Regions from separate parts of the Homo sapiens genome. Here all the other regions are linked to region 1. The links come from fine-mapping of genetic effects on gene expression. A gene starts in region 1. Each other region holds a variant in brackets. All regions are shown on one strand. Distances are between the middles of the regions.

Region 1 (4,000 bases):
ATTATTGGAACCAAAAATTGAACCATGCTTTGCAGTATATTGTTTGAAGTATTTAAGCAAAGGATGTATTCTTAATTATTCGAGTTACAGTGTGCCACTTAACTTTATTTCAAGCGAGGTATATTTTGGGAGAATTCTTTATGAAAATCAAGATAACTTGAATCTAGCACTTTTTCCTTATCTTTTCAAAATTAAATATTTTCAACAGTAATGCTAATGATTAGGTAAAGTGTCAGTAATAGATTGTTAAAACATTAATATTCAATACTTTACGCATAGAAATATCAGTGTATTCCATTTTTTAGTTCCACATACTTAAAAATATTATTTATTTAATGACCACCATTATAGAACAATGCATTAACTTTTTTGTATGTGACTTGGGATAGAAGTCTTAGATACTAAGTGCATTCATACTTATATTTTAATCTATATTTTTCTTCTGGAACATTATTAGTAAATTTTGAGATTATAGAACTGTTGACCCAGTCATACATGTACAGAGCTTGGCCTCCGAGTTAATTAAATATGAGTTAATAATATATTATAAGGAAATTATTGTCCTTATTACAGTTATTAGGTAGTTACTCAAATTATAGCTTGAAAGGAATGCAGAGCATGGAAAACTCAGGATTAAATTATGCATTTGAACCTTAGGCCAGTTTTTACTGTAGAGACAGTTTGCTGCTAAAAGAGAAATTGTATGTCATTGAAATTAAATGCTTTTCTGGGGATGGAAGATTCCAGTTTTTAATGAAATTACTGAGTGTGGTGTAGTGAAATGATTAAAATCTGTATTCCGGGAATGTGGCAGGGAAAAAAAATCAATAAGTGCTAGCACAGCTTTGCTGCTCAATGTGAATCCTGAGAATGAAATAAACTACTACAAAAATAATAATTAAAAACATATCAGCACATTAATTTATTTAGCATCAGTCTCCTGAGACATCATCTTCACTAATTTTTAGCATACATTTTACTCTGTAATGAGCAGCCTTCTTTTCAGATATCCCTATTAGACAGGCAGTATTTCTGCCCTTCCCCCAGTGCTCCTGCATTGCAATCATTGTACTTGCACTTATTATGTTACAAATGACCGAGGTAAGGCTGACATTCTCAGTGCATGCAAAAAGACCGAGTCTGCCAAGCTTTTTTTTTTTCCTAATGAAGCAGCTTTGTGAAATCTCCCCATGTGTTAATACTAATGAAGATCCTCCAGCACAATTAAAATCACAGCCAGTGGCTGAAGAGGAAACATAAAACAATAGCATCTTTTAAGATACATTTATCCACATATGTATAAAATATACATAGATGATCAAATTATTCTCCGATAGCTTAATTTTTACTTACTCTTCATCCTGAAAATTAAATTATGCAATTTTTAATTATATGAACTTTGAGACTTTCTTGTGTTCTGGAGGGAAAAAACGGTACCTCAACGAACTTCTAAAAAAAAAAATACGTATCTTCTTGGCTAATAAAGTGTTATCAAGATTAAGGCTTTTAAAAAAATTGTTTTTAGGAATCTATAGGATGGGGTGCGGGAGGGAATGGGGCCTATTGTATCTTTAGTTTAACTTGATTGGTTGCAGGATTTGGGAATTGGGGTTGGGGGAGTGGAAGGGTAAAAACAAAGTTGGAAGAGATTCTGGGGGTAGACCATAGCATATGACTGCATTTGTAGTTTAAAGGAGCAAAGGGCTACCAGTCTTACTCATAACTTGATTTTTAAAAAGTGTTCAGTGCCTACAATTTGCTATGCTTTTTTTCTAATCTCTCAGAAACTTGAAAAAAAGCTATCGAGATTACCTTTTACAGTGTGTGCATATAACTTTAAAACGACTATTTTAACGTCTTTTATTTAAATTTTATTTTAACTTAGTGCATAAACATTACAGCCAGTTTAACTTGTCCGTGGAAAGGCAGTAGAATTTTACCCCGGGACCGTCTTGCATACTGCTTTTTTTGAGTTTTAACATCCGCAAAATCTTGGCATATTAATTTAGTTGGGTTGTAGAATTCTGAGTTTAGGAACAAAAAAAATTTAGGTGGAGATGGTTGACCTATGCTCCCTACTCTGTAGCTTTTGTTTTTTTAAAAACTAAGTTTTAAATCCCGTTTTCTGTCCTGTCTTCTTTAAAAGCAAAACAAAACATTTTAAGTTTCTTAACTTTTTCCTGGGACAAGGAACGGTGCAAACTCAAAGCTACAGTATTCTTGGAAAGAAGAAGCAACCCCCTCCCTTGGCTCCTTTAGGAGCTGATAGGTCATTTATTATTGGAACTGAAATGGTATAAACAATTCTCTCTCTTTTTTTCCCTTGTTAACAGCAACTTTCATTGTTAGAGAGAGGAGAGAGAGAGAAGCCTTGTTGGTTGACGTCACTTGGTTCATGAAGCCTTCGCCTAGAAGTGAAGCTGCTGAACAAACCTTGAGAAGAATCATCTCCTGCTTCAATCTGCTGCTGGATAGGAACTAATCAGAGAGAGAGAGGCGGAAGACGGAGAAGGAGGGAGTCGAAGGCTTTCCCGATCACAAATCTCACCTCCACTACAACTCTCTTTATACTTTTCTTGCAGAAATAATAATAGAAATAAGGAGGTGGTGGGGTTTCCAAAAATCTTAACCTTCAACCATCTGGGGAAAAGGCAAAAATCCCATCTACCGCAACTCTCAGTTCGAGAGTAAAGGTGAGTTTAAAATCCTCGGGCGTGAGGGGTGCGGGTGAGGATGTAAATTCCCAGTGTTACAAAGCCGGTGGAAACAGCAGCGGAGAAACTGCGCTCGGGCAAGCGGGGGACTCCGGAGTTGCTGCGTGGAGGCGCTCGCCCCGCCGCCCTCTCGCCCTCCGCCGCTGTTTATCCTCGCCGGTCGGTGCGGCTCTTTGTTGTGGTGGCCGGAAGGCTGGGGTGGTTCTCGGGGTCCCGAGTGGAGTTTGGGGGAGGAGGACACGGAGATGTGCCGTCCTGGGTGGGAGGTGGGGGGTGCGGCCTCAGGAGAACGTAAACTTTATTCCTAGAAGCCGGTGCGGGACTTCGCTGGAGTAGGGCCGTGGGTTGTGCTCCCGGCCGGGCAGGCGCTGCCGCCGCGAGTCCGCCGCCTTTGTGCCGGCCGCCCTGGCTTCGCGTCTCCTTCCTCTTCCCCTTCGGCTTCCAGCGCTCAGGTCGCCGCCAACAGTTTTGCTTCTTAAAAAACAACCTCTGTCAGCGTTGCGATGGCCGTTCCTACCCCGGAATATCCGCTGCTCCCCCACTCCCTGCCGGGGTAGTTTCTGGATCACCCCCCACCCCCGTCCGCCTCCTGCTGCCCTTTTTTGCCTCCGCCCCCTCTTCCCTGTCGGACTGACGAGCTGCGTCTGCCACCCCCACTCCCCGGCTTGGGCCTCTAGCTCTCCCGTGTGTAGCTGGAGGCTCTGAGTTTACTGAAGATGAGCGGGGGTGGGGGTGGGGCAGGTGGGATTGGGAAAAGATCTGGATACCTGGGAAGGTCTATGTCAGCACGCAGAAGGTTTGAGGAGCATTGCTTCTCATACAGTAAGGTCTGTGCCTTGGTCTCATGTTTTAGCAGTTCTTCCCCGGGAACGACCGCCAGCTCCCAACTCCTCTGCTTCCCTCTTTTAATCTTCTTGTCGCTACCCCTCCCCCCAGCCCCCGTTCTCTTTCGCGGCTCCCTCCCCTTTAAGTAGTTTCACGAACCCCAGAATTGGGATTTGAGAAGGGGAAGGAAGTGTTTGAAGAGTCAGAGCTGGCTCTGTTGTTTGGGAGATTTTCTCTTCTTTTCTTTCTCCCTCTGTATTTATCTTTTGTCTGTTGCTTCCTTATAAAGAGGGAAGCAGCTGCAGTCCTTGGCCGAGTTGTTGAAATTTATCCCTTTGTGTATATTACAATATCCTCCATTTTTTTTCCTGCCCTCTAAACAACAAGCGTTTCGCCATCTTGGGCAATTTTATTCCCAAGTCTCTCTCTTTTTTATTTTTGAGGAAAGGAAAGAAGTATTA
Region 2 (4,000 bases), 22 kb after region 1:
TTTCTAGGTTAGGTCCTTCATTGTCTTTTATATTCTTGAACAAACTTTAGGGCCGTGCTTCTAACAGGATCTGTGGTGTCACGCATATTTTTATAAAAATACTAAAATTTGCTAAAATGCAATATATTAATCATTGTTGTCTTCAAATGAAACAGTAAATAAGCGCTTAAAATAGTTCTGAGTCTTAATTTCCAATATGGTAAACATCAAGACTTACAACCTATGTACAATGAAAACTCTTTTGGAGTCTTCAACAAGTCCTAAGAGTGTAAAGAGGCCAGGAGACCAAAATGCACAAGAATCCGTTCTTTAGGACAATACTACTCCTTTTCCTTTAAAATAAATGCACATACCGAGCTGTGATTCCATGTCATTGTTGCTCCTGGTATAGTCTGTTAAAAGAAAGACTTCAGCCAAATTTATTTAAAGTGTTTAATTGAGCAAAGAAAATTCACGAATCAAGCAGCCTCCCAAGCCAGAGTAAGCTCAGAGACTCCAGCGTAGCCAAGTGGTGGAAGAAGATTTATGGACAGAAAAAGGAAGTGACATACAGAAAACATAAGTGAGGTACAGAAATAGCTGGATTGGTTACAGCTTGGTATTTGCCTTAGTTAAACACAGTTGGAACAGTTGGCCACATTTGATATGCCAAAACTGGGTGATTGGCACAAGAGTGGGCTATGGACTGATAGTACCTCCGCTTGTTAGATATAGTTCAGAATGTACAGAGAAGCCTCTAGGTTGAATTTAAAATATGTAAAGAGGCAGCTTTAGGCTAAACTTACATAACAGATTTCAATGAATCATATTAATTGTAACTTTTAGTCGAAGTGACTAATTTCTGTTTTACAGAGAAAAGTTGGAGGTGAATAATTGAGAACTGTGTCATATACCAGCATTTTAGCAGACTAGTAGAATTCATGAGCACACACAACACCACTTTTTACAGCACGCATACCTCTTTTTCGCCTCTTAAAGTGGCAAAAATTGACATTTCCACTAACATGACCTAAAACAGCTTGTCATTAGTATATAAAAACAAGAAACAAAAGTGTATGTTTAGCCTGTAATCCCAGCACTTTGGGAGGCCGAGGTGGGCAGATCACCTGAGATCAGGAGTTTGAGACCAGCCTGACCAACATGGAGAAACCCCATCTCTACTAAAAATACAAAATTAGCCAGGTGTGGTGGTGCATGCCTGTGATCCCAGCTACTCAGGAGGATGAGGCAGGAGAATCGCTTGAACCCAGGAGGCGGAGGTTGCGGTGAGCCGAGGTCATGCCATTGCACTCCAGCCTGGGCAACAAGAGCAAAACTCCGTTTAAAAAAAAAAAAGTATATGTTTAAAAGGATGCATAGTAATCAATGTTTCAGTATTTTGCTTAGAAGTTATTACGCATTGAATAATTATTTAATATCAGTCCAAGGTTTTAGGCTACCTAAAGATTTGAAAATTATCTTCAAGCTGCCATGCTGCAAAATATACTTACTGTTGAAATAAAAATTTGTTGGGCCATGCCCGGTGGCTTGGGCCTGTAATCCCAGCACTTTGGGAGGCTAAGGCAGGCAAACAGCTTGAGCTTAGGAGTTTGAGACCAGCCTGGGCAACATGGTGAAGCCCTGTCTCTACAAAAACTACAAAAAATTCACTGGGTATGTTGGCACGCGCCTGTAGTCCCAGCCGCTTGGGAGACTGAGCTGGGAGGATCCCTGGAGCCTGTGAGGCGGAGGCTGCAGCAAGCCATAATCACGCCACTGCACTCCATCCTGGGCAACAAAACAAGATTACATGTCAAGAAAAAAAAAAAAACTGTCAAAATAATGACTCAATTTACTTGAACAT[G/A]AGAATTTATCTGTTTCATGTTGTAAACTTTAAGGATTAATGCTAGCTTGTCCGATTGGTTAAAGCCATAAATTTTTAAAATTAGAATGTATTAAATTAGTCCCATTTGCCAAAGATTTACCTTTCTTTTGTAAACTTGGGTTCTTAAGATTAAAAACTAAAATACTTAGTTTTTCTAATTACTTTTTTTTTTTGAGACGGAGTCTCGCTCTGTTGCCCAGGCTGGAGCGCGGTGGCGCGATCTCAGCTCACTGCAAGCTCCGCCTCCCGGGTTCATGCCATTCTCCTGCCTTAGCCTCCGGAGTAGCTGGGACTACAGGCTCCCGCTACCACGCCTGGCTGATTTTTTTGTATTTTTAGTAGAGACGGGGTTTCACCGTGTTAGCCAGTATGGTCTCGATCCCCTGACCACAAGGTAGGCCGCCCGCCTCGGCCTCCCAAAGTGCTGGGATTACAGGAGTGAGCCACCGCGCCCGGCCGACTTTTTGTTTTTTAATGCACATGCAGAATATTAGAAGTTCAGTGTTTTTATTGTCTGAGAATTTAGTTCAAAGAGAATTGAAAGGCCTGGAAATGGATAGTGGTGGAGGTTGCACAGTATTGTGAATGAACTTAATGCCAGCTAATTGTACACTTAAAAATGGTTAAAGTATGTGCTCGATCTCTAATTTCTAAAACAAAGCAGGGACAGGCCTGGTTAGTACTTGGATAGGAGAATGTAGGCTTTTTAAAAAACTGGCAAAAATGGCAAATTTTATATTACAGTAGTCCCTGCCTTGTCCCCGAGGAGATACGTTCCAAGACACTCAGTGGATGCTGCCTAACCCCCAGTGGATGACTATGTTTTGTCAATCTAATAACTAGACAACTATTAGGTGACTAACAGGCAGGTAGCGTTTATAGAGTAGATATGCTGGACAAAGGGATGATTTGTGTCCCAGGCAGGTTTGAGGGGGAAGGCATGAAATTTCATCATGCCACTCAAAATGGCACACAATTTAAAACTTGTGAATTGTTGATTCCTAAAATTTTCATTTTAATATTTTTGGACGTTGGCCAACTGCTCGTAACTGAAGCCTCACAGTGAAAATGTGGATAAGTGGGGACTACTGGTATGTGTATTTTACCACAAAAAACAACCCCCAAAACAAAAAGGATAGTGAAAGGGACAGATAACTTGGTATGATGCCCTAGATAGGACATAATCTTTTTTTTCCCTTTGTTAAAGTCTTCCATAATTTTTCCTCGCAGGAACATTATCCTAAGAGGGGTAAGATTTCAACTGATGGAATACATAGAAGTACATTCCAGATTCTACAAAGATAAAATACAGAGATTTGGTCAAAGTTTGCATGATCACTGAGGAAAATAATGATAGATTTAAAGGTGGAAATATAGATTTTGGACATACTCTTTGTTCTCTGATGGTACAGATTAGCATATCATATGTTTTATTAAGTGAACATGTATTTTCTTTTTATTACTTTAGTTTTCATATGGAGTTGGGGGCTTAAATTTTTGTTTCCCTTAGCAGTAGAGTAAGCCCATTTGGCATGAGTTTTGGCCAAACTGCATCACAAATCTTAAGGCTTTGCTTCATCATTTATTTGCTAAGTATCTTCTCCAGGCAAGGAACTCAGTGTTGGGGTGAGAGGGAATAAAGAGATGAATAAGATACTTTATCAATTTATCTAATTCTGTTTAGTAAATATTTCAAAACTTAACAGGGTAAAACATATTTGTTATTGGAGTTTCTGTAGTTCAGGAATCTCGTAGTGGCTTAGTTAGGTGGTTTTGGCTTAAGATCTCTCAAGAGGTGGCTGTCACGCTGTCAGTTGGGGCAGCAGTCATTGCAAGGCTCAACTGGGGCTAGAAGATCTGCTTCCAAGCTCATATAGTTCTTGGCACGCCTTTTTTCCTTGTCCCTGTTCTGTTGGTGGGAGGACTTAGTTCTTGATCACATGGTCATTTCCATGGTGCTGTGTCTGACATGGCAGCTTGCTTCCACCAAAGTGAGTGGGTGAGAGTTGAGAGAGAGACAGAGTCTCTTTTTAGAATGAGAATGTTGTGAAAGAGGAAAGAAGATAATTTGAACATAGAGCAACTTGAAAAAGAACAAGCAGTTTAAAAGATCTGTTAAAGTCATGATATTGGGCC
Region 3 (4,000 bases), 36 kb after region 1:
CAGAGTCTCAAAAAAAAAGTATGTGAACTTACCCAGTGCATTTATGTTTTCTGGTGGCTACTTATTTGTATTACAAAGCGATATATTCTTACCGGAGAAACTCAAATCTGTCCATTCATAAAGTAAATATATTCCCTTTGGCCCTGCTGATGGCAGTTTCCAGAACTACTTTAAAATGGTTTGCTGTACATTCTTTCAGACCTTTTTAATATGCACATGAATATATATACTTATTTTTTAAAATCTAATTAAATATGCATTCTGCAGTTTGATTATATATTCTACCTATGCAACAGAAGTCTGCCATGTGAATATATATAAATACGTTTTCTTTAAAAGGATTATACAGTGATGTGTAAGCATTTTTTTTATACTTTAAGTTCTAGGGTACATGTGCACAACGTGCAGGTTTGTTACATATGTACACATGTGCCACGTTAGTGTGCTGCACCCATTAACTTGTAATTTACATTAGGTATATCTCCTAATGCTATCCCTCCCCCCTCCCCCCACCCGACAGGCCCTAGTGTGTGATGTTCCTGACTCTGTGTCCAAGTGTTCTCATTGTTCAATTCGCACCTATGAGTGAGAACATGCGGTGTTTGGTTTTCTGTCCTTGTGATAGTTTGCTCAGAATGATGGTTTCCAGCTTCATCCATATCCCTACAAATGACATGAACTCATCCTTTTTTATGGCTGCATAGTATTCCATGGTGTATATGTGCCACATTTTCTTTATCCAGTCTATCATTGATGGACATTTGGGTTGTTTCCAATTCTTTGCTATTGTGAATAGTGCTGCAATAAACATACATGTGCATGTGTCTTTATAGCAGCATGATTTATAATCCTTTGGGTGTATACCTAGTAATGGGACAGCTGGGTCAAATGGTATTTCTAGTTCTAGATCCTTGAGGAATCACCACACTGTCTTCCACAATGGTTGAACTAGTTTACAGTCCCACCAACAGTGTAAAAGTGTTCCTATTTCTCCACATCCTCTCCAGCACCTGTTGTTTCCTGACTTTTTAATGATCGCCATTCTAACTGGCATGAGATGGTATCTCATAGTGGTTTTGATTTGCATTTCTCTGATGGCCAGTGATGATGAGCATTTTTTCATGTGTCTGTTGGCTGCATAAATGTCTTCTTTTGAGAAGTGTCTGTTCGTATCCTTTGTCCACTTTTTGACGTGGTGGTTTGATTTTTTTTTTCTTGTAAATTTGTTTAAGTTCTTTGTAGATTCTGGATATTAGCCCTTTGTCAGATGGGTAGATCGTAAAAATTTTCTCCCATTCTGTAGGTTGCCTGTTCACTCTGATGGTAGTTTCTTTTGCTGTGCAGAAGCTCTTTAGTTTAATTAGATCCCATTTGTCAATTGTGGCTTTTGTTGCCATTGCTTTTGGTGTTTTAGTCATGAAGTCTTTGCCCATGCCTATGTCCTGAATGGTATTGTCTAGGTTTTCTTCTAGGATTTTTATGATTTTAGGTCTGACATTTAAGTCTTTAATCCATCTTGAATTAATTTTTGTATAAGGTGTGAGGAAGGGATCCAGTTTCAGCTTTCTACATATGGCTAGCCAGTTTTCCCAACACCATTTATTAAATAGGGAATCCTTTCCCCATTGCTTGTTTTTCTCAGGTTTGTCAAAGATCAGATGGTTGTAGATGTGTAGTATTATTTCTGAGGCCTCTGTTCTGTTCCATTGGTCTCTATGTCTGTTTTGGTTACTGTAGCCATGCTGTTTTGGTTACTGTAGCCTTGCAGTATAGTTTGAAGTCAGATAGTGTGATGCCTCCAGCTTTGTTCTTTTGGCTTAGGATTGTCTTGGCAACGCGAGCTCTTTTTTGGTTCCATATGAACTTTAAAGTAGTTTTTTCCAGTTCTGTGAAGAAAGTCATTGGTAGCTTGATGGGGATGGTATTGAATCTATAAATTACCTTGGGCAGTATGGCCATTTTCACGATATTGGTTCTTCCTATCCATGAGCATGGAATGTTCTTCTATTTGTTTGTGTCATCCTTTATTTTGTTGAGCCGTGGTTTGTAGTTCTCCTTGAAGAGGTCCTTCACATCCCTTGTAAGTTGGATTCCTAGGTATTTTATTCTCTTTGAAGCAATTGTGAATGGGAGTTCACTCATGATTTGGCTGTTTCTCTATTATTGGTATATAGGAATGCTTGTGATTTTTGCACATTGATTTTGTATCCTGAGACTTTACTGAAGTTGCTTATCAGCTTAAGGAGATTTTGGGCTGAGACGATGGGGTTTTCTAAATAAAAAATCATGTCATCTGCAAACAGGGACAATTTGACTTCCTCTTTTCCTTATTCAATACCCTTTATTTCTTTCTCCTGCCTGATTGCC[C/G]TGGCCAGAACTTCCAACACTATGTTGAATAGGAGTGGTGAGAGAGGGCATCCCTGCCTTGTGCCAGTTTTCAAAGGGAATGCTTCCAGTTTTTGCCCATTCAGTATGATATTGGCTGTGGGTTTGTCATAAATATCTCTTATTATTTTGAGATACATCCCATCAATACCTAGTTTATTGAGAGGTTTTAGCATGAAGGGCTGTTAAATTTTGTTGAAGGCCTTTTCTGCATCTATTGAGATAATGATGTGGTTTTTGTCTTTGGTTCTGTTTATATGGTGTATTACATTTATTGATTTGTGTATGTTGAACCAGCCTTGCATCCCAGGGATGAAGCCAATGTGATCGTGTTGGATAAGCTTTTGCTGCTGGATTCAGTTTGCCAGTATTTTATTGAGGATTTTTGCATCGATGTTCATCAGGGATATTGGTCTAAAATTATCTTTTTTTTGTTGTGTCTCTGCCAGGCTTTGGTATCAGGATGATGTTGGCATTAAAATGAGTTAGGGAGGATTCCCTCTTTTTCTATTGATTGGAATAGTTTCAGAAGGAATGGTACCAGCTCCTCTTTGTACCGCTGGTAGAATTCGGCTGTGAATCCATCTGGTCCTGGACTTGTTTTCGTTGGTAGGCTATTAATTATTGCCTCAATTTCAGAGCTTGTTATTGATCTATTCAGGGATTCAACTTCTTCCTGGTTTAGTCTTGGGAGGGTGTATGTGTCCAGGAATTTATCCATTTCTTCTAGATTTTCTTGTTTATTTGCGTAGAGGTGTTTATAGTATTCTCTGATGGTAGTTTGTATTTCTGGGGGATCGGTGGTGATACCCCGTTTGTCATTTTTTTATTGCGTCTATTTGATTCTTCTCTCTTTTCTTCTTTATTAGTCTTGCTAGCGATCTATCAGTTTTGTTGATGTTTTCAAAAAACCAGCTGCTGGATTCATTGATTTTTTGAAGGGTTTTTTTGTGTCTCTGTCTCCTTCAGTTCTGCTCTGATCTTAGTTATTTGTTGTCTTCTGCTAGCTTTTGAATTTGTTTGCTGTTGCTTATGTAGTTCTTTTAATTGTGACGTTAGGGTGTCAATTTTAGATCTTTCCTGCTTTCTCATGGGCATTTAGTGCTATAAATTTCCCTCTACACACTGCTTTAAATGTGTCCCAGAGGTGGTGGTATGTTGTGTCTTTGTTCTCATTGGTTTCAAAGAACATCTTTATTTCTGCCTTCATCTCGTTATGTACCCAGTAGTCATTGAGGAGCAGGTTGTTCGGTTTCCATGTAGTTAAGCGGTTTTGAGTGAGTTTCTTAATCCTGATTCCTAGTTTGATTGCACTGTGGTCCTAGAGACAGTTGTTAAAATTTCTGTTCTTTTACATTTGCTGAGGAGTGCTTTACTTCCAACTGTGTGGTCAATTTTGGAATAAGTGCGATGTGTTGCTGAGAAGAATGTATATTCTGTTGATTTGGGGTGGAGAGTTCTGTAGATGTCTATTAGGTCTGCTTGGTGCAGAGCTGAGTTCAATTCCTGGATATCCTTGTTAACTTTTTGTCTCGTTGATCTGTCTAATGTAAGCATTTTTAAATCATTCCTTTGTTGAGGGACATTTTGTTTGTCTCTCATTTTGGGAAACATT
Region 4 (4,000 bases), 280 kb after region 1:
CCAGGCTGGAGTGCAGTAGCAGAATCTCAGCTCACTACAACCTCAATCTCCTGGGTTCAAGCAGTTCTCCTGCCCTCAGCCTCCCGAGTAGCTGGGATTACAGGCGTGCACCACCATGCCCAGCTAAATTTTGTATTTTCAGTAAAGACAGTGTTTCACCATGTTGGCCAGGCTGGTCTCGAACTCCTGAACTCAAATGATCCGCCTGCCTTGGCCTCCCAAAGTGCTGGGATTACAAGCATGAGCCACCGCACCTGGCCCAGAATTTACTATAAATTTTAAGGCACTGTTTGATTCATTTAATAGTGTTTTTACCAGGTACAAATATTTTTTCCTTCTAAAAATTATTATTAAAACCAGCTTGAATGTCACCTTAGACAAATATATTTGGTGAGATCTAGGCAATAATGATTTTTTTAAAAAAGAGAGAGAAACTGAGACTGATTTCTTGCCAGTTATGGTGGTGCATGCTGATAGTCCCAGCTACTCCAGAGGCCAAGGCAGGATCATTTGAGCCCAAGAGTTCGAGGCTGTAGTGTGCTGTGATTACACTTGAGAACAGCCACTGCACTATAGCCTGGGCAACATAATGAGACCTTGTCTGTAAATAAAACTGAAAAAAAAAGATTAAGTCCTAGATCAAAATGAAATTTGTATTTATATTTTTCTCATCTACACCAAAGCAGTCATCATGATGTGTTCAGTTTTATTATAAACTTACACACATAAACCTAAAACTTGTATCAAAACCTGCCTTTATATTGATATATTTAAATTCTGCAATCTATAGCTTTATTTCCATTTTTGCAAATTCATTAACCTTTCTCTTGTTCTTCATCTACTCTTATTAATCATATAACTCCATCTCTCACAATCTTCATTTCCTTTTTAAAATGCTTAATAATACATTTCTTGCTATGAAACTACCTTGAAAAGAAGGCAGTGTTTCATATTCAAAGATTAAGAAGCACCTTATAACCTTTAGAGACATAACAGTGCCTATAGTAATCCTCATAGTAAGTCCTGACAAAATATTAAAGTGCTCGATATCTTTAGAAATACCCTTTTGGACAAAGACCAAGGTTATCAAGAAAAAGAGGGAGTTGTCATAATTTGCCTCCAGATAATTCTCTACCCACAGTATGCTTTATATTGTTAAACAGTAGGCAGCATCCACTATTTTTTACTGTAGTAGCAGAGGAATTAAAACCAAATAATAATATATTTACTGTAACATATTGTGAGCTATTACTATAATTTTTCAAAATTGTTATGAGTTTGATATCTGTCACCCTTTCTTTAAAAGTATCAGGAAATAATTTTATTTTTAAATCCTAAGTGTGAGATGTAAGACAGATCTTGTAGCATTTATAGTTGCCTAGTAGAGAAAACAATGAGTATTTACTTATGTTCATGAATCTGATTTTTAAATTGTGTTGTTACAGGGATATACATATAACCTTGCAATTGTTATTTCTCAGTGAATACTTTTACAATAGAAGTTTTAACGATGTAACTCAAATATGGAGAAACAACACCATCTTAAGGTATTCAGTGATGGTGATGTTAGGAAAGGTCAAAAAATAGATACTGATTATTGGAATGTTAAACTGCTGCTTTTGCCCTTGGTAACCGCGCCAATGTTAATATGAAATATATAGTATATACATTTGATAAACATTTGTTAACTTGAATAGTGTGTCTGCTGTTTTGATAAGATTCTACAACTGTCATTGGTATACATACTAAGTTATAAGAAGACCATTTTAGACTTTCCCAGACTAAGATATAATGTTGCATTGAAAATTAAAGTAAGTTGGAACAGTTAAGCTATTTTGTTTTTAAGAGCGTATAAATACCTAACTTTAAAGTAGTTTAAATGATTTCTGGTTACATGTTTTCATTTTTAAAAATATGGACTGCAGGACATTTTTTTTTGTGACTGGAGTATGAACTAGATGTCAAAAAACAGTGTTAATGCTTACTGTCTTTTAAAGCCATCTTGGAAGTTTTTACTTGTCTAACTTTTCTTCTTTCCTTTGTAAAACTTACCGTACAGAATATGTGTACATGGAAAAAGTCTTCTTTTTGCAGATTTAAAGTCTTTAATTATATTAGAAAATTTTCAGTAGAAAACAACTAGTTTTATTTTTAATTCTAAAAAAATAAATAATGACCTCTTAACTTCTTACATGTATTGTATCTTTTTTCCTTAGAAACCATTTTGTAGGATCCATTTTCTGCACTTGTGACACATGTTTGATTTGGGTTGATTTTCAA[C/A]GTTTCCTGGTTTGAACACATTTTCCAATCTATCACAATATATAGATGAATTAGTCAAAAATCTAGGGTTATCTTTTTATTATACGTAATTATGATACTAATACAAGTTTTCTAATTTTGATTTTAAAAAATACTCTAACTCTTATTTCTTTCTCAGGATATCATGAGGATGCTAAGATAAGCAAAAGATGAAGCACATTAAACAAATAAAACATCATGTATTAAAGCTATTCATTGCTTTATGTGCTCTAATGTCATGTTAATTATTTCATATGTTAATGTGTACATGCTTCTGAAGTGTGTGCAAGGCATTCTGCCTCTAGCTTTGTTCTTTGCAGTGTACTTGAAATGTGCATTTACCCCAATAGAACTGCTCACCCGTCATGTGGTCCATATCTGTGTAACGAAAGATACATAGATGTGTATGGCTACTGTATATTTGTAAGCAAGCGGAATGTTCATTACTAATATAAATTAGGAATTATGGTGTGTTTAACATCCCAATAACTATTATTCATGGCAGAGCGTTAATTTTAAATGATTTTTCATGTATTATAGTACTGCCAAATCTGTCGAAAGGGAGATAATGAAGAACTGCTTCTTCTTTGTGATGGCTGTGACAAAGGCTGTCATACCTACTGCCATAGACCCAAGATTACAACAATCCCAGATGGAGACTGGTTTTGTCCAGCTTGCATTGCTAAGGTAAGACCAATCTAAAACTAAACTTTTCATTTTATTTTATCTTTTTATTATTTTTTTAATACATGGTCTCAGTTGCCCAGGCTGGAGTGCAGTGGTATGATCATAGCCCACTACAGCCTAAAACTCCTGGGCTCAAGCTATCCTCTGGCCTCAATCTCTTGAGTAGCTGAGACTACAGGTGTGCACTGCACCCAGCTAATTTTTTTTTTTTTTGAGAGAGAGATAGGGTCTTGCTATGTTGCCTGCAGTGGTCTCATCCCTGGCCTCAAGCAATCTTCCTACCTCAGCCTGCCAAGTCACTGGAATTACAAATGCAAGCCACTGCACCTGGCTCCAAACAACTTTTTAATTACTAGATCAAAATGCAGAATTTTATGGTGTTTATTTTTGAAGGCAGACTCTAGGTATTCCCTACCTCAGTTACTTTCTCCCATGTTTAATCTCTTAACCTAATTATTAACAGTAAGCTAATTGTTAACAATCTCTTAACCTAACTTTTAACTACCGCCTCTCCATAAACTCACTTCAAACATCCATCTGTCCACCTCCTTTCTTCCCTTCCAGTTCACTCCCTGTAGCACTTCAACTCCAACAATCCTTGGATCTCACCAGGACTTTCGGTTTGTCTTAAGACTTTTCACTGTTGCTCTCCCACTTCATGTCCTCTCTTTCCTCCTATTCTGTCTTATGTGTCATTATCCCATTATCCCAATCATTGCTTCCACCATTAGGTCCTTTGCCTGCCCCTGCCCTTGGTAAAACCGTTATTCTGGTTAATACAATTCTCTGATTTCTCTAGCACCTATACCTTTGTATCTGAATATAGCTGTGTAATACTCAGCCTTTAAATTCAAGGCTTTAAGGCCTGGGTATGTTGGCTCACACCTGTAATTCAAGCACTTTGGGAGGCCGAGGCGAGCAGATCACTTGAGGCCAGGAGATCAAGACCAGCCTGGCCAACATGGCAAAACCCCATCTCTACTAAAAATACAAAATTTTAGCCAGGCAAAAATTA
Region 5 (4,000 bases), 110 kb after region 1:
GGTCCTGATTTGACAATCTGCGCTATTACTAATCTAGTTTGGTAAATAAAGTATAAACAAATATTAAATGAGTCTTGATTTGATAATTTGAGCAACCAGTCTAGTTTTATAAGCAAAGTGTAATCAAATATTAAATGTGTTACAGTAATTAAAAAAACCAGAGATGTCAAAAGGAGCATAAGATTAATTGCTTAATGAGTGATATGTAAGTAAAATATTATGAGTTGACAGTAAGAGAGCGGTCATTGGAATGACCAGGAAAGCTCCTTTAAGGAAAAGGAACTAGAACAGTATCTTCAAGCACTGAAGAAGGACTTCAAACATTAATTTTTACAAATAGCTTTTTTGAGATATAATTCACATACCATACAGTTCACCCATTTAAAGTATATAGTTTAATGGATTTTGGTATATTACATTTTTTTTACATTGCAGTAAAATATCTATAACATAAAATTTGTCATTTTAACCATTTTTATCTACACAATCCAGTGGTCTTAATTACATTCACAGCGCTGTACAACCATCATTAGTGTATTTCCAAAATTTTTTCATCATCCCAAACAGAAACTCTGTAACCATTAAGTAATAATAACTCCTGGTCAGATGCAGTGGCTCATGCCTGAATCCCAGCACTTTGGAAGGCTGAGACGGGGTCTCAAGGATCACTTGAGACCAGGAGTTCAAGGCCAGCCTGGGCAATGTAGTGAGACCTTTGCTCTACAAAAATAAAATAAAATAGCTGGGCATGGTGGCACACGCCTGTGGTCCCAGCTACTCAGGCCTCGAACACAGGAGGTTGAGGCTGCAGTAAACTGTGATCGCACCACTGCACTCCAGCCTGGGTGACAGAGTGAGACCCTGTCTCAAAAAAAATTTAAAAATAAAAAAAAGCAGTAACTTCCCATTTCCCTCACCATCCCCCATCTCCTAGTAACCTCTAATCTACTTTCCATCTCTGCAAATTTTCCTCTTCTACATATTTTTCATAAGTGGAATCATACAATATTTGTCCTTTTTTGGGTTGGGCTTATCTCACTTTAGAGTTTTCAGGGTTCATCTATGTTATAGCATGTAGCACAACTTCATTTCCTTTTATAGTTCCATTTTATAGATATATGTATATGTGTACATATATACATACAAATGTACATTTATACATACACACTAGTATGTATAAATGTACATATATACACAGTTGCTCATATATACATGTACATATATACATATATTTGTGTATACATATCCATATATTTGTACATATATACAAATGTACATATATACATATGTTTGTACATATATGCAAATACATATTAAATATGTATATATGTATATCACATTTGTTTATTCATTCATCTTTTGAGGGATATAGGTGTACAAGTATGTTTTCAAGTCCCTGTTTTCAATTCATGTAGTAATTTTACATTAACTTTTTGGAGGAACCACAAAACTGTTTCCAGATAGCTGAATCAAGCATTGATTTTATTCTGTTACACTGTATAGTGAATGTAAAAGATTAGGCTGAATGAATACTGGCTTCAGCACATACAGGGTATTTTTCTTAAAAGAGAGGAAAAAAGCCATATGTGTTATGTGTGAAAACATATGTATGTGTAAATAGCCACCTCTTAAAGTGAACTTTTAAAAAATAATTAAGCCTTCTGGTTGTATGTAACCCCAGTTTTGTAATATTTTCTAGAAGTGGTCGTTGAGTTTGAATTTCTTAGTCCCTAGGAACAATGTTATAAAAGGATGTTTCCACAAGTAATTAGAATTAAAAGTGTATTTCTGCCCATTTTTAAGATATCTATTAGTTGCCTTTTTTGCATTATAATATAAAATCACTGAATTATATCTGACTGGAAAGTGTTTCCAATATATTCTTTTTAGTCAATTTATTTTCTTTGATATATGTTAATATTTTATATTTTATAAGTGAGAGAGAGGAC[T/A]ATAATGATTTCATTCAGCATTTTTGAGATCACTCTTACAAGTATAAATTCTGGAATTCAATATGGATTAGGAGAACAATGTTTACCTATCTTTTCATAGATCAGTGAGGGACCACTAAGCCAAAAGGCAGGGATTATTTCACTGGCTTGATAAGGTTATAAGAGTGAGGAAATGGGGAGCAATATTAAAACAGGGAAACTTTGACCTAATTACAAGTTTCCCTAAGAGGGATATATAATATCACAAACCCACAAACAGTAATGAATTACCACTTGTGGATTCAATAAGGAAATAAATGGTAATAACAGATATAATGGGTCATCCTGATGACAATATTATTTAGGACATCGGAGAGTAATTTCTGGAAATAAAAGGAAAACTAATTGGAAGTTTTCTTTAAATTTCTGGTCAGGGGGTATACATGAGAGTATGTAATGCATAGGGAGATTGAAATAGCCAGCAATTTTGAAGAAACTGACATGGATAGCTCATGGAATTTTTTTTTTTATTTTTGGCAAACCTCTGAGGCAATTTGCCTTAATATGAATTTGAATCTTAAGTAGGAACTGGGAATGAGATTATAGGGTGTTTAAATCATTAACAAAAGTTAGACTTGGAGAAATCTTTTGGGAAATAAGTTTCCACTTGGTTAAAAGCAAAATTTCAATAATCTATAGAGCATATAATTGTAACAAACTAAATACTCTGAATAACTTACCGAATACAAATTCAGTAATTAGATAAGTAGTTTAAATGTTGTTAGTTTGACTTTGCTGATCTGGCAAGAAAGTAAGAAGTCACTGTGACTAAAAATTAAGTGAAATAGAAAATTTAAAGAGGATAAGAAAATGTCAAAGCCAACTTCCATTTCAAGGAACCTGCTGAACTTGTGATGGAAGTTCTATTTATGAGGCTGTATAATAGCCCATATTTGAAATCAGATAGATAGGCCAGGCGTTGTGGCTCACATCTGTGATCACAACACTTTGGGAGGCCAAGGCGGGTAGATTGCTTGAGGCCAGGAGTTCGAGACCAGCCTGGCCAACATGACGAAACCCCATCTCTGCTAAAAATACAAAAATTAGCTGGGCATGGTGGCGCATGACTGTAATCCCAGCTAATCGGGAAACTGAGGCACAAGAATCACTTGAACCGGGAGGTGGAGGTTGTGGCAAGCTGAGATCATGCCACTTGCACTCCAGCCTGGGCGACAGAGGGAGACTCTAAATAAATAAATAAGTAACTTACGTAGTGCTGTTATTTTTATTTCAAAACGTCTCTACCTCCATTTTGAAACAACATGATCTCTTTTGAACCTCCGTTTTTAAAACGTTTAAGTTCCTTCTTTTTAAAAGTAATCATACCTTTAGTATAACTCTTACCCACTTTGTCCCTTCTCATTTTCTTATTTTAAAGTTTTTTGGTTATTCAATTTAGATTACTTCTCATGGTAGGAAGATTATAATGAATCCTAGATCTAATTTGATTCCTAATGTTTTAGTGCATTGATTGAAAAATACATCAAATTTTCCGAAGTCATATTAATCCCTTATACACAAGCAGACACACATTCAAAAACCCTTAATACCTTAGAACTTTCTGGACCTCTAGTATATGTGAAATTCAAATGAAATTTTTTTAGGGAGACCACTGCTTTTCTCTTCAAAGAAACACCTTTCCAACTCTTAGTTTTCACCCAAAACTTGGAATTAATATTCTTTCTAGATATAATTGTTTAGATTTTTTTTTTAACCTCCTCACTGTCGTAGTTGTTTGAAGCCTAACTTTCATTACTAAATCAGCTGTTGATCTGTTGCCTAATAAACTTTTTCTGGAGCCTATTTCTTCAAGTTTTGTACTTCTCTTTAATGTATCAGGCTATATTTTACACAGGAAACCTCAAGTTTTTTGTTCTCAAAACCATTTAGCTCTTCTTTGCAGCCACCTAATCTCTCTTTGACGACCATCTAAGCATTTTTCAGAAGGCCTTGATTTGTAATTATACCAGACTTTATTTTGGGGCCCCATGAATCTAAAACTTTTATAATTA
Region 6 (4,000 bases), 43 kb after region 1:
TTGGAGATTTCATATTCAATCATGTTAAAATTTTTTTCTTTTGAAAATGATATTCTTGAGTACATACTAGTATCACTTCAAGAGTTTTATAATCATGTTAATGGAGTACATATAATCATGCTTTTTGTGGATTTTGACCTATTATTCCAATTTCTAGTCTACCAACATTGTTTTGACTCTTCAAATTTTAGAAGTGAGTGATCTAGGGTCTCCATTCCTCACTTTACAGGTTAGGAATCTTAGAGAGGTTCAATAATTAAGTAGTGGCAAATACTGTGGTCCAACCTTAAAAGCAGTTGTAATTTCATTTGGATCATTTGGGTGTTGACTTCTTTGGAGGCAAAGGTTTGTTAAGCCTTCTCAACTTAATGAATTCCTCCATTTACCTTTATATCCCTAATATTATAACTCTTTATAACTCTGTGTCTAGAAGATGGTAAGCCCTTGATACATGCCTGTTGAATTGACTTCACTTCTATTTTTTATCCAGTATATTTTAACCTCTTTCAGGCTATCTACTCTCCCTTTCTGCATGGTTTTTTTTCTTTGGGAGGCAGAGTGTTGCTCTGTCGCCCAGGCTGGAGTAACCCTGGTATGAATGAGGGAAGGTCCAAAAGGGTCCTGAGCATAGAAGCATAGGACTCCCTGTGGAGTCATTCTCCATTTCCTGTTCCCCCAACTCCCATTACCCACTATCCTACTTTCTCTCTCTATGGATTTGCCTACGCTGGACATTGCATGTAAGTGGAATTATACAATATATGGTTTTTTGTGACTGGCTTCTGTCATGTAACATAATGCTTTCCAAGTTCATCCTTGTTGCAGCATGTATTACAACTTCATTTTATTTTCTTTTTTCTTTCTTTTCTTTTCTTTTTTTTTTGAGATGGAGTCTTGCTGTGTTACCCAGGCTGGAATGCAGTGGTAGGATCTTGGCTCACTGCAGCCTCCGCCTCCTGGATTCAAGCGATTCTCCTGCCTCAGCTTCTTGAGTAGCTGGGATTACAGGCGCATGCCACCATGCCCAGCTAATTTTTGTATTTTTAATAGAGATGGGGTTAGGCTGATCTCGAATTTTTGACCTCGTCATCCACCTGCCTCAGCCTCCCAAAGTGCCGGGATTACAGGCGTGAGCCACCGCGCCCAGCCTTCATTTCATTTTCTTACCAAATAATATTTCATTGTATGAGTGTGTCATATTTTGTTTATCCATTTATTATTTGATGAACACTTGAATAATTATGAATAATGTTGCTGTGAACATTCATGTACAAAACCTACATACGTGTAGGTTTTTTTATGGACATATGTTTGTAGTTCTCTTGTGCATATAACTAGGAATGGAATTGCTGGGTGACATAACTCTGTTTAACTTATTGAGAAACTGCCAAAATGTTTTCTAAAGTGGCTGCAATGTTTTGCAATCCCACTGGCATTGTGTAAGGGTTCCAGTTTCCCCACATCCTTACAAACACTTATTAGGTTTTTTTTGTTTTGTTTTGTTTGTTTGTTT[GTTTT/T]TTAGCCATTCTAGTGAGTGTGAAGTGCCATCTCGTGGTTTTGATTTGCATTTCTCTGATGACTAATGATATTGAGCATCTTTTCTTATGCTTATTGGCCATTTGTGTATCTTCTTTTGATAAAATATCTATTCAAACCCTTTGCCCATTTTAAAATTGTGCTGTGTGTGTGTGTGTGTGTGTGTGTGTGTGTATGTGTGTGTGTGTGTGTGTGTCTGTCAGTCTCTCCATCTGTCAGGGTCTGGGTCTCACTGTGTCATCCTGGGTAGAGTGCAGTGGCACATCATGGCTCACTGTAGGCTCAACCTCCCAGGCTCTAGGGATCCTCCCCCTCAGCCACCCAAGTAGCTGGGACTATGGGCACATGCCAACACACCCAGCCAATTTTTATATTTTTTTGTAGGTAAGGGATTTTGCCATGTTGCCCAGGCTGGTCTTGAACTCTTGGGCTCAAGCGATCTACCTACCTTGTCCTCCCAAAGTGCTAGGATTATGGATGTGAGCCACCTGTGCCTGGCTGTGTTGTTTTTAATTATTGAGTAGTTATAAGTGTTTTTTAAAAATATATTTTGGATACAACTGTCTTCAGATATATGATATACAAATATTTTCTTCCATTCTGTAGGTTGTCTTTTCACTTTCTTGATAGTGTCCTTTGAAGGACAAAAGTCCACGTTATCTATTTTTCCTTTGATTGCTTGTGCTTTTGATGCCATATCTAAGTAAACATTGCCTAATCCAAGGTCAAGAAGATTTACGCCTTTATTTTCTTCCAGGAATTTTACGTTTTTACCTCTTACGTTTGGGTCATTGATTCATTCTTAGTTCCTTTTTGTGTATGGTGTGAGGTAGGGGTCCAGTTTCCTTCTTTTACATGTGGATATTCAGTTGTTCCAGCACCTTTTGTTGAAAAGATATTCTTTCCCCATTGAATTGTTTTGGCACCCTTGTCAAATATCATTTGACTGTACATGTAAGCAAGGGTTTGTTTCTTGAATCTCAATTCTATTCTGTTGATCTAAAGGTCTAGCATTAAGCCATGCTACTCTGCTTTGATTACTATAGCTTTGTAGTAAATTGAAATCAGAAAGTGTGAGCCTTCCAACTTTATTCTTCCTTTTCAAGATTATTTTGGCAATCCTGGCCAAAATAATCCAAAATTTAACTTTTCATGCTATTTTATCTGAAATTACTTTCTTCAAGGTCACTTATAATCTTTGGCCCAATTCAGTTATACCCCACCCCTAATTTTTTAGTCCTTTTTCAGTTTTCTAGAAAACTATCTCGTTTCCCACTTTCTGGTCCTCTTTTTGATATTTTGCCCTCATAATATTTCTTTTTATTTTCCAGCAGGTAGTGAGCACTTCTCATCTTCTAAGCACCCTGTTAATCTCTGGAAAAGAAAATTCCAATTAAACACAATCCTCATTCTCATGTTGCTTAGGATAAATAATATTAAGAGAGAGGCAGGTACATTCATGCTAATCTCTGTGTTTCATAAAGGAGAATCTGATTTTTGTTTTTGTTTTGGTTTTGGTAATGGATGTTGGCTTAAGTGTTTTTAAACTTGAAAATAATAGTTTAAAAGCATGTACTTATGTTAAAATAATTGTAAAATATAAAAGCAAGCACTATCTATATGGAAAAATTCAATACAAATGAATTGCAAGAACAGCAAAAATCTAGCTCTAAAAAGTGTTACAAACATGCCTATGCATAATAATAATAAAATATATGAGTAGTTTAATATATCTTCTATTTATTGTTCACTTTCACTTATTTATTGATTTATCCAAAATAAATGTATTGAGTATTGTGTGTGCTTTTCCAAAAACAAATTCTCCAATTATTCAGCACCAACTTTGTCTCAACAATTTAATTCCATTCTGACAGTAACTGTTCAAAGTTATTGTAGACCCCACAGTTTAAGGTCTCAGTCCCATAATACTGTCCCCACTTCAGATGCCAGCCACCAGTAGGGTCTCTCAGTTACTCACAGTTCTGACAGGCTGAAACTAATCAGAGGTTCCCACAACCCCCTTCAGTTTCAGTTATTTGCTAGAGACTCATTGAGCTCAGGAAAGTGCTATACTTATCAGTTTATTATAACAGATAACAAATGAGCATCCAGTTGGTAAGGTATATAAGGCAATGTGTAATAGGATCCTGAGCATAGGAGTCTCTGTCCCCTTGGAGTCAGAGTGTGCTACCCTCTCAGCACATGGATCTGTTTACCAACTTGGAAACTCTACAAATCCCGTAATTTAGTGGTTTTTATGGGGGTTTAATTACATAGGCATGCTTGATGAAAACTGGTGCTGTGGTTTGAATGTCCCTTCCAAAAATCATGTTGAAACTTGATGTTGCCATTGTAACAGTATTAAGAGGTGCAGCCTTGAAGATGTGATTAGGCCACAAGGGCTCCACCCTTATGAAGGGATTAATGCACTTACCTGGGAAGTGGGTTTGTTATCTTGGGAGTA
Region 7 (4,000 bases), 67 kb after region 1:
ATTCCCCTTAGGTAATGGGCGAGAAAACCAAGGTCTAGAGAGTTTGTGGGAAAGTAGTGCACATAATAGTTAAGGACATGGACTTGGGGTTAGAAAAACCTTTGTTTTAGTTTGTGTTCTGCTACTTCTGTAGCTGATGTGATCATGAGTCAGTTTCTTAGTCTAAGACCCAATTTTTTCTTTTCTAGAGTAGGGATAATATTATTATGTCTGGAATATTAAATAAACATTGCTCATAAAGCACTTAGCACAAAAGATGGCACATACTACACTTTTCTTACCCTCATCATACTCATCAATATCTGTAAAGTTACTTGTCTAAAATTACATGATTTGAGAACTTGGACTAACCTGACTTTGCTTTATCCTGTTAGAATTTTTACTGTTCTGTTTTGTGATCAGTTCTTACTTGATTAAAGGTGTCTAAATAGCATTTATAGAAAGTATAATAAAATAATTCAGAGGTTATTTTCTTAAATCTCCCTTAATCCTCTGTCTTCTCTGAGCGTATTTTTGCAGTTGCATTTACATGCAGTCTTGTTTATATGTAATTTCATTATTATAGTGGCTATATTTTATCTTCAGATATTCTTATTTAATATTTTACTGTATATTTAATAATCTGTCCTAAGGCAACTTTTTTTTTTTTTTTTTTTTTTTTGAGTCTGAGTCTCACTGTCACCCAGGCTGGAGTGCAGTGGTGTAGTCTTGGCCCACTGCCAGGTTCACCTCCCGGGTTCACACCATTCTCCTGCCTCAGCCTCCTGAGTAGGTGGGACTACAGGTTTCCGCCACCACGCCCAGCTAATTTTTTGTATTTTTAGTAGAGACGGGGTTTCACCATGTTAGCCAGGATGGTTTTGATCTCCTGACTTCGTGATCCGCCCACCTCGGCCTCCCAAAGTGCTGGGATTATAGGCGTGAGCCACCGTGCCCGGCCGGCAACCTTTTAAATAAAGTGGCTTTTTCTGTTTTTATTAAAATTTCTTGCCTGGGCACAGTGGCTCTCACTCCTGTAATACCAGCACTTTGGGAGCCCAACAGGGGGGATTGCTTGAGCCCTGGAGTTAAAGACCAACCTGGGCAATATAGTGAGACTTTGTCTCTACAAAATAATAAACAAAATCAGCTAGGCATGGTGGCTCAAGCCTGTAGTCCCAGCTACTCGGGAAGCTGAGGTGGAAGGATTGCTTGAGTCCAGGAGTTCAAGGCTGCAGTAAGCCAAGATTGTACCATTGTACTCCAGCCTAGGCTACAGAGGAAGACCTTGCCTCAAAAAAATTTTTTTTTCTATTTTTCTCTTTGGTAATTTTATTATGAATATTACTTAAATTTTGTAGAGATACACCTCTCCCAATAGTAATACTTAATAATTGAGATGTAGAAGGAATTGCTGTATAACTTTATAGTGTACATACTGTCAGAAATACTGGTGTTAGCTAGTAAATTTAAAATGTCAGGTACCTACCACAGAGAAGATATAACCAAGTATGGCATGATTGATAGTTGTCCCTAATACTGGTTTTCCCCCTCTTCTAATTTTTTTTCCGGTATATCACTACCTAGAATAAAAACATCATTTCCCCAGTCTCCCTTGCAGCTAGGTATAGTAATCTGGCTAAATTTTGGCAAGAGATATATAGGCAGAAGTAGTGTGTGCAACTTTCAGGATGTATCCTTAAAGGAATGGGTGCACATCCTCTTTTTCGCCCCCTTCCTCCTTGCTGGCTGAATTGTGAGCATAATTGGACTGTGAGTGGAAACCCTATACTGAGAATGGGTAAAGCAGCAGTAAGAAAGAAAATCCTTACTAACATGATGTTACACTGTCCCTACTGGCCTGCCTATCCCTGGATTTCTTTGACATGACAGAGATAAAATTCTGTATTGTATGAGCCATTCACTTTTGGGCTTTCTGTCACTCCTGGCCAAAACTAATCCTGATACACCAAGCTAGCTTGATGAAGAATGTTTATGCCATTGTGGCCGGATGCGGTGGCTCACGCCTTTTTTAATCCCAGGACTTTGGGAGGCTGAGGTGGGTGGATCAGGCAGAGGTGGGCAGATCACTTGTCTGGAGTTTTGAGACCAGCTTGGCCGACATGGCAAAACCCCATCTCTACTAAAAATACAAAAATTCGCCAGGCGTGGTGGCACATGCCTGTAGTTCCAGCTACTCAGGAGGCTGAGGCAGGAGAATTGCTTGAACTCGG[G/A]AGGCGGAGGTTGCAGTGAGCTGAGATTGCACCACTGCACTCCAGCCTGGGCTACACAGCAAGACTCTGTATCAAAAAAAAAAAAAAAAAGAAAGAAAAAAGTTTATGCCAGTGTGAAAATGTCTTTTTTTTTTTTTTTTAAACATCTCACTTGTTTTATTTGAACTCTACTGTCTCCATGGTTTAAGTCAAGCTTGTCCAACCTGTGGCCTGTGGGCCACATGCAGCCCAGGACAGCTATCAGTGCATCCTAACACAAATTTGGAAACTTTATCAAAACATTATGAGATTTTTTTTGTGATTTTTGTTTTTTAGCTCATCAGCTATCGTTCGTGTTACTGTATTTTATGTGTGGTTCAACACAATCCCTCTTCATCCAGTGTAGCCCGGGGAAGCCAAAAGATGAGACAGCTCTGGAAGTTTTAGGAGAAGAATGGAAAGGGAAATGATTCATTCTGTCTAGCACAGGGGATCAAGAAACGTTTGCAGAGGAGTGAGACACGTGGTCTAGACTTTGAAGTATAATGTAGAAGAGAGTCTAGAAAGAGGAAATAGGCATATAGACTTGAAAGAACATATGTTCAGAGACATGTAAATGTTTTAGTTTTAGTTGTTTGTTTGTTTGTTTGTTTTTGAGACAGAGTCTCGTTCTGTTGCCCAGGCTGGAGTGCAGTGGTGCAATCTCGGCTCACTGCAGCCTCCGCCTCCCAGGTTCAAGCAGTTCTCCTGCCTCAGCCTCCTGAGTAGCTGGGGTTTCAGGCACATGCCACCATGCCTGGCTAATTTTTCTATTTTTAGTAGAGATGAGGTTTCGCCATGTTGCTTAGGCTGGTCTCGAACTCTTGACCTCAACTAATCTGCCTGCCTCGGCCTCCCATAAGTGCTGGGATTACAGGCGTGAGCCACCGCGCCCGGCCTTAGTTTAACGTTGTTGAAATATAACATTTGAGGAAGTAAATGAGCCTAATGTTCAGCTCTTATAGGAATTTATAAACTAAAAACTTTGGTAAGTGCTAGATACCTAGTGATGAGTTATTTTAATGTAAATTTAATATTATTTATTGCTTTTCCATTAAATTTTAGTGGGGTTTTTCTTTGGTTATGTTTTTATTTTTAGAAACAGGGTCTTGCTCAGTCACCCAGGCTGGACTACAGTGGCACAATCATAGCTCACTGGAACCTCAAACTCCTGGCCTCAAGCAATCCTTCCACCTAGGCCTCCCAAAGCATGGAAGTTACAGGTGTGAGCCACTGTACTTGACTATCATTAAATATTTTTAATTTTGATAATATATTTTGATACATGTGTTGAGGAATGAAGAACAAAGCTAATATTTATTTATCCACTGATTTTTTAAGATGCTAGGTACTTATTTGAAACTTTAACAATTTTAAAAGATATATCATTACATTCTACAGATGCCCAAACTGAGACTTGGAAAGGTCAAATATCTTTCCTAGTGTGTTGTAAGTGATAGTTAAGTCATTATCTGAAAAGTGCAAAAAATAGTCATTTCCAGAACAAGTTTACTATGTACTATCTGACCTTTATTTTTCACTTTTCTAATACCAAAAGTAGAGTTATAGTCAATTTTAAAATATCTTTAGTAAAATATAATAACAGTGATAAAACTGGAAGTGAAAATCTTTTTAAGAATTTCCATATTTTATAGCAAGTGACAAATCTAAAGGTGTTAAAATTTTAAAATGTAGTACAGTAACGTTATAAAATACATCCTAAACATTTTGTTTTCTAGAGTCTGAATATTTTGAACAGTATCTTCAAA

Alleles and levels. Alleles are on the strand shown, and positions count from the first base shown. SD is a standard deviation of normalised expression in the study named. Not every link is listed here.
As copies of A replace C in region 4, the expression in tibial nerve of the gene that starts at base 2,387 in region 1 goes down (moderate effect, 0.40 SD a copy in GTEx).
In carriers of allele T in region 6, the expression in monocytes after R848 of the gene that starts at base 2,387 in region 1 tends to be higher than with GTTTT alone (large effect, 0.80 SD a copy in Quach 2016).
With allele G in place of A in region 7, the expression in fibroblasts of the gene that starts at base 2,387 in region 1 is lower (small effect, 0.13 SD a copy in GTEx).

The links.
Region 2: its variant is fine-mapped to the expression of BAZ2B in whole blood (TOPMed, PIP 0.97).
Region 3: its variant is fine-mapped to the expression of BAZ2B in whole blood (INTERVAL, PIP above 0.99).
Region 4: its variant is fine-mapped to the expression of BAZ2B in tibial nerve (GTEx, PIP above 0.99).
Region 5: its variant is fine-mapped to the expression of BAZ2B in whole blood (TOPMed, PIP 0.99).
Region 6: its variant is fine-mapped to the expression of BAZ2B in monocytes after R848 (Quach 2016, PIP 0.95).
Region 7: its variant is fine-mapped to the expression of BAZ2B in fibroblasts (GTEx, PIP 0.93).

The regions. Positions count from the first base shown.
Region 1 is chr2:159,614,935-159,618,934 of GRCh38, reverse strand. It overlaps BAZ2B (bromodomain adjacent to zinc finger domain 2B), which reads left to right and starts at 2,387. Exons shown (of 37, transcript NM_013450.4): 1 at 2,387-2,693. BAZ2B-AS1 (BAZ2B antisense RNA 1) reads right to left here and starts at 3,641. Exons shown (of 2, transcript NR_110588.1): 1 at 3,482-3,641; 2 at 893-3,185. RefSeq lists enhancers at 2,298-2,367, 2,618-2,697, 2,325-2,851, 3,908-4,000.
Region 2 is chr2:159,592,444-159,596,443 of GRCh38, reverse strand. The region is part of intron 1 of BAZ2B (bromodomain adjacent to zinc finger domain 2B); the gene reads left to right. Among named protein-coding and RNA genes, the nearest start is that of BAZ2B-AS1, 21 kb to the left of the region's middle. The variant G/A (reference allele first, on the strand shown) is at 1,844.
Region 3 is chr2:159,578,436-159,582,435 of GRCh38, reverse strand. The region is part of intron 1 of BAZ2B (bromodomain adjacent to zinc finger domain 2B); the gene reads left to right. Among named protein-coding and RNA genes, the nearest start is that of BAZ2B-AS1, 35 kb to the left of the region's middle. The variant C/G (reference allele first, on the strand shown) is at 2,368.
Region 4 is chr2:159,331,525-159,335,524 of GRCh38, reverse strand. BAZ2B (bromodomain adjacent to zinc finger domain 2B) reads left to right here. Exons shown (of 37, transcript NM_013450.4): 34 at 2,839-2,985. Among named protein-coding and RNA genes, the nearest start is that of WDSUB1, 47 kb to the right of the region's middle. The variant C/A (reference allele first, on the strand shown) is at 2,281.
Region 5 is chr2:159,507,069-159,511,068 of GRCh38, reverse strand. All of the region lies in intron 2 of BAZ2B (bromodomain adjacent to zinc finger domain 2B), which reads left to right. Among named protein-coding and RNA genes, the nearest start is that of BAZ2B-AS1, 110 kb to the left of the region's middle. The variant T/A (reference allele first, on the strand shown) is at 1,950.
Region 6 is chr2:159,571,853-159,575,852 of GRCh38, reverse strand. The region is part of intron 1 of BAZ2B (bromodomain adjacent to zinc finger domain 2B); the gene reads left to right. Among named protein-coding and RNA genes, the nearest start is that of BAZ2B-AS1, 41 kb to the left of the region's middle. The variant GTTTT/T (reference allele first, on the strand shown) is at 1,514.
Region 7 is chr2:159,548,128-159,552,127 of GRCh38, reverse strand. All of the region lies in intron 2 of BAZ2B (bromodomain adjacent to zinc finger domain 2B), which reads left to right. Among named protein-coding and RNA genes, the nearest start is that of BAZ2B-AS1, 65 kb to the left of the region's middle. The variant G/A (reference allele first, on the strand shown) is at 2,214.